Linked DNA regions of Homo sapiens. The protein of the gene in region 1 interacts with the protein of each later gene in a biochemical or structural test. Each region holds a gene or a part of one and is shown on either strand. Other genes may lie near its edges.

What was found. The genes of interacting proteins can lie anywhere in the genome.
Region 2: the proteins of CCND3 (region 1) and CDK11B form a complex in vitro, tested with the Homo sapiens proteins (one study listed by BioGRID).

Annotation. Positions count from the first base shown.
Region 1 is NC_000006.12:41,938,794-41,945,992, forward strand, and holds the start of CCND3 (G1/S-specific cyclin-D3), read right to left. Parts: upstream 3,016-7,199; 5' UTR 2,857-3,015; coding exon 2,659-2,856; exon of another isoform or gene 2,369-2,658; coding exon of another isoform or gene 2,159-2,368; intron 1,793-2,158; coding exon 1,577-1,792; intron 413-1,576; exon of another isoform or gene 1-412. UniProt on the Homo sapiens protein: Regulatory component of the cyclin D3-CDK4 (DC) complex that phosphorylates and inhibits members of the retinoblastoma (RB) protein family including RB1 and regulates the cell-cycle during G(1)/S transition.
Region 2 is NC_000001.11:1,655,993-1,663,311, forward strand, and holds the start of CDK11B (cyclin-dependent kinase 11B), read right to left. Parts: upstream 3,013-7,319; 5' UTR 2,922-3,012; exon of another isoform or gene 2,464-2,921; intron 1,507-2,463; 5' UTR 1,494-1,506; coding exon 1,383-1,493; intron 1,311-1,382; exon of another isoform or gene 1,273-1,310; coding exon of another isoform or gene 1,264-1,272; intron 1-1,263. UniProt on the Homo sapiens protein: Plays multiple roles in cell cycle progression, cytokinesis and apoptosis. Involved in pre-mRNA splicing in a kinase activity-dependent manner. Isoform 7 may act as a negative regulator of normal cell cycle progression.

The DNA.
Region 1 (7,199 bases):
GTGCGATGCTGAGGCAGGACCTTGCCCTCCTTCCTTGGGCCTCAGCCTCCTCTGCTGCACACGGATTTGGACCAACTGGAGTTCTCAGAGGTCCCTTCCAACCTTGACCTTCTAGGAAGTCTTTTGGGCACTCCACCCCCAGCTCAGGCAGAGGGAAGAGTACTTTTTGCCTGTACTGAAAAACCCTCATACGTGGGCACACAAACCACCTCCATCTTTTCACAAAAAGGAAGTTCCCCTTCTACCTTCCAGCCCCAACCCCTCCAAAAACATCTTGCTCTCTGGCCCTGGAAACTAGCTCCACCTTCAGACTTGCCAAAAACTACCAGATTCATCACAAAGAGCTGTGGCGCCTCCTGGATTCCCAACTCTGGCCTCCTACTCCCATCTCTGAGCTACTTGGCAGGAAGAGGAATCCTGTTCCTCGACTCACAGCAGTCGGGGGCCCCAGTACCCTGGCTTCCCTGCCAGCCAATCACAGCAGCCTGCTTGCTGCCCTCCTCCCTGGGAGATGGGGCCCAGAGACTCCTCTCAGGGTCAGCAGAAGACTTGGCCCGCCACAGAGCAAGGTGGAGGAAGGTGCCAGCTCACCCACCCTCTCCCCCAGCCTCCCTAGGAGACAATCTGCATGTCCTAAATAACCTCTTCCAGATCCAGCAGCTCCCCCGCCTCCTCCCCAGGCTCCTTCTGAGGCGGGACAGAACCGGTGACTTTCCTGCCCGGCCTGAGCCCAGCCCAAGTTTCCAGCAAGAGGCCCAGGGAGCCACTTCCCAAACCACAGGAGTGACAGCAGCTCCCCACAGGGTTATGAAAGACCTTGGTCAGAGAGGGCGGGCCAGGGGAGGGGGCACCATTATCACATCGGAAGCAGATGCAGCTCACCTCCCTGTCTGTCCCTCAGCTTGGGCCTTGGGCTAAGGGGGGAAGAGGGAGCTGTTTCCACCAGGCCCAAAGCAGCTGCTCCAGTTCCTCAGAATGAGGACGAGGAAGGATTAGGAAGAAGCTGTTTCTTCCGGGATATAAGAGGAAGCAAAGAAGGTGGGATGAAATACATCAGCCCTTCCTTAAAGCAATCAGGGCCTGGCTTTAATTGGCTCTGGGAGGCTTTTCTATCACAAAGTCCACATGAGGATAAAGACTCAACCAAGGCAAAACCCCCTCCCCCACATGAAGCACATTCCACTCCCCTACTCCAGTGGGGGTGTGCAGGCATGCCCTTCTGCTGCCAATAAATAACTCATGGTGGCTGCGTAAACCCAGAGGCAAAGTACTAGTGAGTGTAGACATGCAATTTGACTTGTTGCTATCTGGGGGAAAGACCAGGAAGGAGTGGCATCCCCTGGAGGTCAGGAGGAGGGGGTTTAATGCCTGCCTGCAGCTCAAGCCTGGGCGGGAGTGATACTAACCATCACACCACAATGCCCCATCGTTTGTTCCACCCCAATTCCTTTCCCAAAGGTCCTGATCCCCTTGCTTCCTCTCCAGGGGGCAGAAAGCCTCTGATATCTCAAGCTTTCCTTTTCCTGGAAAGTGGGGAGACAATACGTGTCGGGGGTGGGGGGAGTTACACACGCACCCGCAACTGGCGGGGAGAGACAGCGTGGTCGGTGTAGATGCACAGTTTTTCGATGGTCAGGGGCGTGGTCTCGCGCAGCTTGGAGGCCAGCAGCATGCAGACCGCACCCAGGAGCTGCAACTGCGCCTTTCGGGTGGGGACGCAAGACAGGTAGCGATCCAGGTAGTTCATGGCCAGGGGGAAGACTTCCTCCTCACAGCGCTGCTCCTCACATACCTGGGGGAGGGCGCACAGTCACTGCTGGGTCTGGAGCGTGGGGAACACAGCAGCGGGGGGGTGGGAGCGCTGAAGTGAGGTGGGATAGGGAGCAAAAACGGCAGAGAGGGTAAGCTACTTAGAGAGACAAGGACCAATAAAGGAGGAGGATGCGCCCTCCCCAAGGTGACGCCCCCCACTTCCTCTGCGCGGCCTCCTCCCCTCTCCCCTTGACGGGGGAGTGGTAAAGCCAAGGAGCCCTTGCTCACGGAGGATTCCAAACGGAGACTCCCCTCCCCCACAGCGAGGGGAAGTGGGACGCAAGGGTCACCCATGGTAGCCAGAGAGCTGGGACCTCACCCCCATCACCGCCACCACTGCACACACCCGAGGGGAAGGGAGGAGGCTCCTGCCGCTGCCTCCTGCACTTTTCATTTCCCTGTCGGCCGGAACAGGGCGCGCGCCACCCCCATCGCCTTCCCCGCCAGAACCCCGCGAAAGACACAGGAACCGGCTCCCGGGCGGGGGCGGCCGAGCCCAGGGTTTTCCAGGCGCGCTCTCCGGAGAAGGCCGGGAGGCGGAGGGAAGCGGGAGACGCTGTGAGAAGCCGAAGGGGAGAGAGTGTCCTTGGTCCCGTTTGCTCGGCCCGAAGAGAGGCACAGTTAGGGTGCCAAGTGACTGGCAGTCACTGTCGGGAGGAGCCGATTAGGGCTCGGGAAAGCAAGGGAGGCAGCTGGCGTGGGTGCCCTAGTGAAAGGCCAGGCCCCGGGAGTCTTAGCCTCGGAGCATCCTGCAGATTGCTGTGGGGACCGGGATGTCCCGACAGGGCGGCCCCGGTGTGTCCAGACCCGGGAGCGGTGGGGGAGGGGGACGCGTCCGGGCGGTACCTCCAGCATCCAGTAAGCCAGCATCTTCCGCATGTGCGGCTTGATCTCCCGCTGCACGCACTGGAAGTAGGAGGCGCGGGGTACGTAGCGCTCCTCCAGGCGGAGCAGGCTCTGCAGGACACGCTGGTCCCCCAGCAGCCGCGGGTCCGGCCCGGCCCGGGGCGCGTGCCGGGTGCCTTCGCAACACAGCAGCTCCATACTCGGGCAGCGAACAGGCAGGGCGGGAGTGCGGGCTCGCGAGTCCCAAGGCAGGCGACGGGCCGGAGAGCGCGGGGCGCGGGTCTGGCGCTGGCGCTGGCACTGCGCGGCGGATCCCCAGCCCGCCCGCCGCCCGCGCGCGCGCGCCGCTTCCCTGACAGGCGCCCCGCCCCTCGCGACGATGTAGCAACCGTGGAATGCTCGGACGTCGCAACGCTCCGAGGGGCGGGGCTGCGGCGCCCCGGACGGAAAGGGTTGGCTGAGCGCTCTCCCCTCCCTCCCGCGGCCCCATTGGGCCGCTGAGCGCAAGCCGGCCGGCTTCCGGGCACTCCAGGCCCTCTGGACCACCGGGTGCAGAGAACTTTCTAGGAGGTGGGCCTCCTACCCACCCACGGGCCCTCCCATTTTGCTTCTCGGACTCTAGTCACCCAGGAAACAATTTTTCTCCAAAGGTCATTCATTCACTTATTCATTCGTCAAACCCTACTTCACCGGCTGCTTGCTCTAAGGAATGCGATAAATAATGTCAGAGCTAGTTCTTAGTGAACGCTGCTCGAAAGCCTCACGATGTAATGACTCACTACATCTTCACGAAAACTCGGAAACCGAGGCAACTGTCATTCAGTTGGTCCGTGGCAGAGCTAGGATTGGGAAGCTGGCCTTCTTGCTGCAGATTCTGTGTTCTACACCATTGCTAGTTAAACTGTGATCCCAGACCTGTCCCGTGCGTGGTCATCGCCTGGGAGCTGGTTAGAAATGCAGACTCTCAGGCCCACCCCTAACCTGAATCAGAATCTGCATTTTAACTAGATTTCTGTGCACTTTAAAGTATGAGAGCTTTAGTCTAAGTCAGCATATAACAGAACGGAAAGGCCATGGAGTCATGGCCTCACCTTGTTAAGTTGCTTGCCTAGGTTTGGACAAGCCCCTAAAGTCGGCCTTAGTTTCTGTTTGGAGAAACTGTGGACGGAGAAACTAGATTCTCATTGAATCAGTTTCTTGCACAGACTCTGTGAGATCTACCGGTTGCATTTCTTCCACCTCCCAAACTTTTGGTTACTTTGTAGTTTTACCGGAAGCTAGATTCCACTTGACGAAGAGGCCGAAAAAGACCTCCAATAATGCTCCAAATGGGAGGAGGCCATGAGGATCCCTGCCCTACTGGGGTCCTCCTGACTTAGGAGACACTAAGGAAGTGTCTAACCATTTTCTGTTAATTATTCTTTTTTTTTTTTTTTTTTTTTTTTGAGACGAAGTCTCACTCTGTTGCTCAAGCTGGAGTGCAGTGGTGCGATCTGGGCTCACTGCAACCTCCACCTCCCGGGTTCAAGCAATTCCCGAGTAGCTGGGACTACAGGCACGCACCACCATGCCTGACTAATTTTTGTATTTTTCGTAGAGATGGGGTTTCACTATGTTGGCCAGGCTAGTCTTGAACCCCTGACCTCGTGATCCGCCGGTCTCGGCCTCCAAAAGTGCTGGGATTACAGGCGTGAGCCACCGTTCCCGGCCGAATTATTCTTTCTTATATTATAAATTGTATTGTAGTTTTCATATCATAAAATATTCTTTTACATTGTAGAAAACTTCAAAAATACAAATAAGCCACAAAAAAAGGAAATAATCATTTGCAATTTGCCATGAAATAACCCTTTAATATATCAATGTTTATTTTTCTAATCTTTGTTCTATGAATAAACACACATTTTAAATGGAATCATCACAAACTGTTTTGTAAGCTTTTTTCATTAAAAAAATACTGTTAACACTTTTCCATGCTATTAAATATTCTAGGACATAATTTGTAATAGGGACATAATATACCATTAGGTGAATGTACAAAATGTATTTTGGCAAACCTGTATTGGTGGAAATTTAAATTATTTCTAGTTCTTCTCTATTAGACATAATACTGTAAAATATTTTTGTGGTAATATCTTTGTGCACACTCATGATTATTTCTAGAAGTGAATTAATTTCTAGAAGTGGAATTTCCCAATCTAAGGTTATGAAACATTCTAAGGCTTTTGATACACTTCTAATTGCCAAATTTTCCTGCTGAATAGTTAAACCAATCTTTTCCACCATCATTACATATCTATTTTTCAAAACAACTCTGCCAACTAGAGAGTGAAAGTGGCTTATTAGTAATAATAAATCTATTTTGGCATATTACTAGACATTTACATTTCTTATGTACATTACCCATTCATGTCCTTAGCTTATTCATTTATAGGGATGTTTGTTTTCTCTTATTGACTTATAAGTTCTCATCACCTCTCAAAGATATTAACCCTTTTCATATTTTTTGTTTGGTTTTTTAACTTTGGTTATAAAAATTCTTGACATAAATTAATTTTTAAAATCAGTATTTTTAAAACTTCTCATTTATAGTAACATGGCACTATGTATAAAAATGTCCCATCAGCCCAGCACTTTGGGAGGCTGAGGCAGGAGGATCACTGGAAGCTAGGAGTTGAAGACCAGCCTGGACAACAAAGCAAGACTCCTATCTCTACAAAAAATAAAAAAAAAAAATAAGCTGGGTGCGGTGGCACAAGCCTGTAGTCCCAGCTACTAGGGAGACCGAAGCAGGAGGATCGCTTGAGCCCAGGAGTTCAAGGCTGCAGTGAACCATAACGGCACATGACCTTCCTTAACATTTTGTTATCATACATTTTGCAAAAACAAAATTTTAGTTCATTGTTTTTACTAATTTTTGGTTCACGGTGGATTTTTTTTTTTTTAACAAATAGAAGGGTTTTTTGTGTTTTTCTTTGTTTTTTGGTTTTCTTTGTTTTTTTGACACAAAGTTTTGCTCTTGTCACCAGGCTGGAGTGCAGCTTACTGCAACCTCTGCCTCCTGGTTTCAAGTGATTCTCCTGCCTCAGCTTCCTGAGTAGCTGGGATTACGGGTGCATACCACCATGCCCGGCTAATTTTTGTATTTTCAGTAGATACGGGATTTCACCATGTTGGCCAGGCTGGTCTCGAACTCCTGACCTCAAGTGATCTGCCTGCCTCAGCTTCCTAAAGTGCTGGGATTACAGGCACAAACCACCGCACCTGGCAAATTAGTTGCTGATTTATTAATTGAGGGAGGGCCACATAGACTGACTAGTCCTGAAAGCTGGATGTGAACCTGTAGTATGGGGACGGGAGCTCCTGGTGAGCAGGACTTTAGGAGAGATACTTCTGCCTCACCCCTGGATGGAATAGCCATGCCTAGAGCTAGATCATCCCTGACTTTCAGGGCCAAGGACTGGCCACTGGGGAGGCAGGTGAGCTCAATGCAGGACCAGCACAAGTTCACCAGTTACCTCCACCTCAAAGAAATAGAGGCTCCTCTTGTTTTTCTTGTTTTTGTTTTTGTTTTTCTAAAAGGAAAACTAAAGACAAAGCAATGACCAGGGCCAATAGTATGAGGAGTTTCTACCCAGGTACATCCAGTTAGAAAAAGTCAATAAAATGGCAAATTGGAGGAGGGGTGGGAATGGAATGTCACAGGCCAAATAAGAAACCCCAAGGAGGAAAGATACATTTTCTTTCTCTTCCTCTTCATCATCAAAATACCCCCATCTGGGCCAGGCACGGTGGCTCACGCCTGTAATCCCAGCACTTTGGGATGCCAAGACGGGTGGATCACCTGAAGTCAGGAGTTCGAGACCAGCCTGGCCAACATGGTAAAACCTTGTCTCTACTAAAAATACAAAAAATTAGCCAGGTGTGGTGGTGGATGCCTGTAATCCCAGCTACTCCGGAGGCTGAGCAGGAGAATCACTTGAACCCTGGAGCCAGAGGCTGCAGTGAGCCGAGATCGTGCCATTGCACTCTAGCCAGGGCAACAAGAGCGAAACTCTGTCTCCAAAAAAAAAAGTCCGCATCTGAGAAGTGAGAGGCTGAACAAGGTGATGGGTGAGGCCCATCACCCCACAGTCCACATGCCATGGCTTAGTTACCTTCAGACCCATTGAGATGCTGGGGAGAGCCAAGCGAGCCATGGGGCTGAGAACAGGGGTGCTAAACAGGGTTCTGGAGTCAGAGACTGCTTTCAGTTCAAACCTGGCTCCACAGCTTATGACTTTGAGAGAATTACTGGAACCTCTCTGCTTCCTCTTTTATCCAGTGGGGATAATATAATAGCCCTATAATGATGTTCTGAAAATTAAACAAGCAGAAAATGTCTTACCTGTGCCTGGCACAAAGCAAGCATTCAGAGATAGTAGTTTCTGAAATGATTATTATTATTCCCTTTCTCAAGGAGTACCCTTTCTGTTATGAACATGCATCCATAACCCCTCTAAGAAAAGCAAAAGTTTGAGCAGCAAGAGCCCTACTCCTAG
Region 2 (7,319 bases), on another chromosome or scaffold:
GACAAGGGACATTAGACTCTATGCCAAGTATGTTAGTTGCTTATATGAGCCAAAAATGAATCTTAAGGCGTATCTTGCAAACCAAATACTTTGTGATACCTCATATGGTACAGGCATCCCTTGGAGATATTTTGGGTTTGGCTCCAAAACACCACAATAAAGTGAGTCACACAGATTTTTTGGTTTCCCAACGCATATAAAAGTTTGGTTTAGGTCAGGCATGGTGGCTCACGCCTGTAATCCCAGCACTTTGGGAGGCTGGGTGAGGCAGGTGAATCACCTGAGGTCAGGAGTTCCAGACCAGCCTGACCAACAAGGTGAAAGCTCGTCTCTACTAAAAATATAAAAATTAGCCGAGCGTGCTGGCAGGTGCCTGTAGTCCCAGGTACTCAGGAGGCTGAGACAGGAGAACTGCTTGAACACAGGAGGCAGAGGTGGCAGTTAGCTGAGATCATGCCACTGCACTCCAGCCTGGGCAATGGAGCAAGACTGTCTCAAAAACAAACAAAAAAGGCCGGGCGCGGAGGCTCATGCCTGTTGTAATCCCAGCACTTTGGGAGGCCGAGGTGGGTGGATCATGAGGTCAGGAGATTAAGATCATCCTGGCTGACACCGTGAGACCCCATCTCTACTAAAAAATACAAAAAATTAGCTTGGCATGTTGGTGGGCCCCTGTAGTCCCAGCTACTTGGGAGGCTGAGGCAGGAGAATGGCGTGAACCCGGCCCTGGGCGACAGTGCGAGACTCCGTCTCAAAAACAAAAAAAAAGCTAACAAAGTGAGCACATGCTATTGGAAAAATGCTCAATGCAGAGTTGCTACAAACCTTTAATTTGGAAAAATTTCAATATCTGTGAAGCATAATAAAGTGAAGTGCAATACAACAAGGTATGCCTGTACTCACTAACATCCCAAATGATGCTGCTAAAGATCTTAGCAAAAGAGGTACTTTGCCAATGCCTCTTACCAAATTACTAAAAAGGTTTCCTGAGTACATTACCATGCAAACCAAGAAAGATGTAAAATATTTATATTAATTTCAAGGCAAGTTCCCACTATATTAAAAATACTTAGAGATAGTATTATGAACATACTAATGAACCGAGAAAAATTAGTCCAGTTTTGCTAATGACTTAACATTCAACGTATTTTATTCTCCATGTATGCTCAATCTAGACACAGCTTTAGTGTGTTAAATCTGCCTTTAATGTCAACTGAATATTTGAATGTTTTTGTTAATTTTTAGAATAGATTTTGGGCTCACCTGCGACATTTGGAAGTACAAAAGAACTTCACCGAAGAAGCGTTGTTCTAATGGAAAAATGAGGGCAAAGAAATTAAATCTCCTTTAAGAAAACCACTTACTTAAAAAATATGGCTTACATTTTTTAAGCGTTTTATCTCTGCTTTCTCCTCTTGTTCCTTCCTTCGTTTCTTTTCCTGAAGAATTTCATCTAAAGTTTTCACTTTCCAAGAGTCCTTTTCATCACCCATTTGAGTTAAAACACTGCAAAAAGAAAAATAATTCAGCCTACATCAGGACACAGCAAGCTATGGTGCTGAACACTTGAACCTAGTCACTTTTGAGGGATTCAGAATAAATCCTCATTAAGAATAAGAAGTTGTGCCCGGCGCAGTGGCTCAAGACGGTAACCCTAGCACTTTGGGAGGCCGAGGCGAGCAGATCGCTGGAGTTCCGGAGTTCAACACCAGCCCGGGCAACATGGCAAAACCTCGTCTCTACAAAAAATACAAAAGTTAGCCCAGTGTGGTGGCGCGTGCCTGTATTCCTAGCTACAGGAAGGAGGCTGCTAGAGGCAGGAGGATCACTTGAATCAGAGAGGTCAAGGCTGCAATGAGCCAAGACTGCGCCACTGCACTCCAGCCTAGATAACAAAGTAAGACTTGGTTAAAAAAAAAAAAAAAAAAAAAAAAGTAAGCTCTAGGCTGAGGCGGGTGGATCACAAGGTCAGGAGGTCAAGACCAGCCTGGCCAACACGGCGAAAACCCTGTCTCCACTAAAAATACAAAACTTAGCTGGGCGTGGTGGCGGGTGCCTGTAATCCCAGCTACTCGGGAGGCCGAGGCAGCAGAATCGCTTGAATCCGAAAGGCGGAGGTTCCGGTGAGCCGAGGTCGCGTCACTGCACTCCAGCAAGACCCCGTCTCAAAAAAAAAAGAAAAAAAAACAAGAATGATAAGTTGTAAGCCAGGCAAGGTGGCGAGCGCCTGTAGTCCCATATACTCTGCAAGCTGAGATGGGAGACCGATTGAGCCCAGGAGTTCCAGGCTGAAGTGCGCTTGTGAACAGCCACTGCGCTGCAGCATGGGCGACAAAAAAGAGTGATGGGTTCTGAAAAATGACCGCTTGAAATCAAGTCTCGTTTCTGTCATTCTTGTATGGTCTTGGGTAACGTAATTCACCTCAGTTTAGTCTTCCGTACAACCAGAATAACAACACCTACGTGATAGTATCGATCGCGGATTAAAGATCATCCGTTTAAAGGCTCTTAACTCAGGACCTGCCACTCATCAAACACTGCTTTTACTGTCAGAATCTGCTAGAAAGACCGCTTGGACTACGTGAAGCCACTAGCACACTGGACAGCTGCACCTTGAGACCGGGGAGATGCTCCGAGATGTGCTCGCGAACAAGGCCACCTGACCCGGGCACTGGGCTATTTCCTCGGGTTCAGTCCCGCACACTTGAGGTTCAGCCTGGCAGACGTTGGCTCCAGACAGCGTTTGGACCCGCCGCCTCCACCACCCAAAGTTCCGTGCGGGATGAGACTGTCCGCGGAAGCGAGGGTGTCGCTCGCCCCCGGGCCCGGGTCCGCCCCGCTCCGAGGCCTGCTCGGAAGAAAGACCTCGGTGCGCAGTTCTCCTCGCGCTCCCACACCTGGTCCGCCCAGTCGGAACTCACCCCTACGCCGCCGCCGCTGCCGCCGCCGCCGCCGCCGGTCCCGGAGCCAGAGAAGAAACAGCAACCGGCGCGCGCCAAAAGTATCGTCACTTCCTGTATTGGCGCGTAATGATGATATAATAGCCGACCTCCGGCCCAGAACTCGAGACAACGACAGGGGCTCGCTCTGTGCGGCACTTCCTGTGTCTGCGCGGGATGATAACGCATAAAACAGCGCTTGCTCAGGTCCAGGACGCCAGAAGAAACAGCCCGGTGAGCGCACTTCCGACTTCGGCGCGGGCTGTGACGCAGGAATCGGGACTCCGGAGGAGCGACGCCCACTTTTGGAGCAGTTTGCGCCTGCGCGGAACGCGTGGCCGGCTTCCGGAATCCTACCGGGACTTTTCCGGTAGCGAAGCCCGCGCCTGTGCCAAGGCTTGCGAGCAGAATGCCTTCGCGATGGACGCCCGCATTCCACCCCCTTGACCGCTGGGACCCCTAGTGGCGGGTGGGTGGAGCGCGCTCCATTTACCTGCTGGTTACCTCGTGAGGCGCCTCAGGTCTGTGTGTCTTGTAAAGGCCGATCTCGGAATTTAACTCTGAACCTTACTCAGAAACAGGGCAGGGAGAGCTCTTACGATGTGATTTTATTTTATTTATTCATGTATTTACTTTTGAGTCGGAGCCTTGCTCTGCCGCCCAGGTTGGAGTGCAGTGGCGTGGTCTTGGCTCACTGCAGCCTCCTCCCGGGTTCAAGGAATTTTCCTGCCTCAGCCTCCCGAGTAGCTGGAACCACAGGCCCGCGCCACCACGCCCGGCTAATTTTTATATTTTTGGTAGAGACGAGGTTTCGCCATATTGGCCAGGCTGGTCTCGAACTCCTGACCTCAAGTGATCCGCCCGCTTCGTCCTCCTAAAGTGCTGGGATTACAGGCGTGAGCCACCGCGCCCGGCCTTTTACAATGTGATTTTGAAGCTGACACTGGCAGTGGGTCCTCAAAGTGCAGACTCACTGGGTATGGTGCTTCCCCCAACTCCCAGGGCCCCACTCCAAACCCATGGATTCAGAGCATTGCAGGAGAAGAGGATAAAACGAGCAATTAATTCCCTTTCCATATGTCAGGTTTTCCTCTTGACTTGAAAAGTCACAGAAAAATGCTTTAGACATCTGAATCTCAGGAAACAAACAATGGAAGATAAACATCCGCATTTACTGGGCCTGAAATGGGAAAATGAAAGATGTGGCAAGAAACTGACAAGGGCCCAAGAAGGGCGATGGGTATCGGAATTTTTTTCATCCCGGAATGAAATGCTGCTTGCTTTGTGTACCCAAGCTCTTTTTTTATTTTTATTTTTTTGAGACGGAGTCTCGCTCTGTTGCCCAGGCTGGAGTGCAGTGGCGCGATCTCGGGTCACTGGAAGCTCCGCCACCCGGGTTCACGCCATTCTCCCGCCTCCACTCCATTCGCCCGCATTAGGCTCCTGAGTACCTGTGACTACAGGCGCCTGCCACCATGCCCGGCTAATTTTTTTTTTATTTTGGGTAGAGACGGGGTTTTACCGTGTTAGCCAGGATGGTCTCAATCTCCTGACCTCGTGATCAGCCTGCCTCTGCCTCCCAAAGTGCTGGGATTACAGGCGTGAGCCACCGCGCCTGGCCTCCCCCAAGCTCTTAATGTTGCTTCCTGAGTTCTTGGTAACTGGGGAAATCTCCCTATTTTTTTATTTTTATTTTTTTTTGAGACGGAGTCTTGCTCTGTCGCCCAGGCTGGAGTGCAGTGGCGCAATCTCGGCTCACTGCAAGCCCCACCTCCCGGGTTCAACGCCATTATCCTGCGAGCCTCAGCCTCCCGAGTAGCTGGGACTACAGGCGTCCACCACTACGCCCGGCTAATTTTTTTGTGTTTTTAGTTGAGATGGGGTTTCACTGTATTAGCCAGGATGGTCTTGATCTCATGACCTTGTGATCTGCCTGCCTTGGCCTCCCAAAGGGTTGGGATTACAGGCGTGAGCCACAGCACGTTTTTTTCTGTTTTGAGAAAAAGTCTCGCTGTGTCACCCAGGCTGGAGTGCAGTGGCACAATTTTGGGTAACTGCAGCCTCCGCCTCCTGGGTACAAGTGATTCTCCTGCCTCAGCCTCCCGAGTAGCTGGGATTATAGGCGTGCGCCACCACACCTGGCTAACTTTTGTATTTTTAGTAGCGACAGGATTTTGCCATGTTGGCCAGGCTGGTCTTGAACTCCTGACCTAAAGTATCTGCCCACCAGCCTCCCACAGTGCTGAAATTATAGTCATGAGCCACCGTGCCCGGCCAAAAATCTCCAGTTTACCCTTCCTTTGTGAAATCTGTGAGTACCCAAATGCAGCCACTCATGTCAAACCCTAACAAAATCGACCCCAGAGCCCACGAGGAGGGGGTGGCCTCGCACTTGCGCTTGATAGGAGCTGCCACAAAGGCCTTTCCCAACCAGAACTTTGGGTTCAGCCACTTCTGTGAAGAGCCTCTTTGCTAGCAACAGCCAGCCCCACCGGTGAACAAAGTAGCATGAACACCAGAGTTCCACAAGGAAGAAAACAAAGCAGTCCATATTTAACATTTATTTTACTTTGCTGAGCAAGAATCATAGACAGCTACTACCACGGCTGCTTCGTTTGGACAAAAATAACGAGGAGGCATCCACGGGATTAGTTACACGGTATCAACTTACCACCACAGCAGAATCAACAGTGACTCGCTAATTAACAGAACCGTTTGCTAGAAAGCACTAATCTAGTTATATAAATACTGAAATAGGTCACATGCAAAACACTATAAACGTTTTGTGTGATGTACTTTTAGTTCTCCATAGTTTTGTTTGGTATAAAGGAAATATAATTTGGCTGTGACGTAGACTGTTGATGTAATTTTCAAGTTTTCCTGTATGGGGAAAGTTGCCCTGACTGTGGCCCTTTTCAAGGTGGAGCCTCCAACACCACGTTGGCAGATTCAGACTCCGTGAACAGTCTAAATGAGCAAGTCAGCTGAATGCCACTTTCAGATGGAAGGGAAATGAGATGGAAAACAACAAAAAAGGACTGCCAGGCGGAACAGTTTCCAACCGAGTTTTCGTTGAGTGAGGATCCAGCAGCCATCAAACTCAAACATAGGGGCCCGCAGGGAAACTGGAGGAAATACTTCAGAGACAGCAAAGCTGAAGGTTTCTGTGCTCTGAGGGATCCGAGAGTGGATGTCCCACTCCTGTATCCTCAGCCAGACACAGAACTAGCCAGATTCATTAGGGAAGCTCGGATGCTCTCATTCTATAAAGTAAGGCCCCCAGCAGGGCACGTACATACATTGGGAAAGAAGAAACCCCTTAGTACCATGTTGGTCAAAGGCAAGAGAGAGAATTCTATTTCCATCTGGAATGTCATTCTTGTTTACTTCTTCCAACAGTGAAATACTTCCAGGCCTTCGAAAGGCCATCCTTTGGACACATGTAAAAAGCTGTCTTGTTGGCCTGTTATTCCCACTGACCCGTCTGAGTGATCACCCAGGAGCGCGGCGGCAGCAAGCAGAGCTCACCGGATTTGGGACAAGGATTTTAAAGGCAGCTACAAAGCTGAGCTCTATTTGCTGATGATAGTCTCTGTTCAGCTGTTTAAAATGACTGTCTGACTCACCATGGTAATTTTTCACAAATTAAAGACACATTTTGGGTTGTGCAACAGTGTTCTCATCTTTCCAGGCAGGCAGATTATTTTAATGCTGTTATACAGGGAATTGGGACTCTCGGATTTTCTTTTTTAACCTTTTTATGCCTTTCAGTAGGGGAAGTTTCCTTGAAAGAGAGCTGCAAATCTCTTAAGTATCAACGTAAAGAAGCCGATGACCCAATTCGGGAGGTGGTTCAAGTGTTCTGTTCGTTTACAAAAGCACAGACCACGACCATGGACACACCCAGTGGAAGTAACCACACCTGGTGTGTTCCTAGAAGCTCACCTGTGACAGTTCAACAAGAACTTACTATTCCAGAAAAGTATTACACAAAGTTATTTTAAAAAATGTCTGTACAATCGTTAACACGGCCAAGCCAGGCCTTGGGTTTTGCCTCTTGGTGCCCGGCTGTGCTGGGAATGCCATGAAGACCAGCGGCTGGAAACTGACTTGGGCATGGAGAGGAGACTGAGGGAGAGGGAGGGGACAGCACGACTGAGCAAGGGCACAGTGCTGGCTGCCTCATGGGCTCCAGGCTCCTTCTGCCAGGATGAGGAAGAGGCCCCAGAGCAGCGTTACACAGGAAATTACCCTATTTGCTAATCCTTTGGAAAAACGTTTGTTTCTGGTCCACAAACAGAAAATCCAAACAGGATGGCAGCTCCTTGTGAGGGTGGAGGGGAGGGCACCAGATGCTGTGCGGCTGGAAATTCCAAGGTG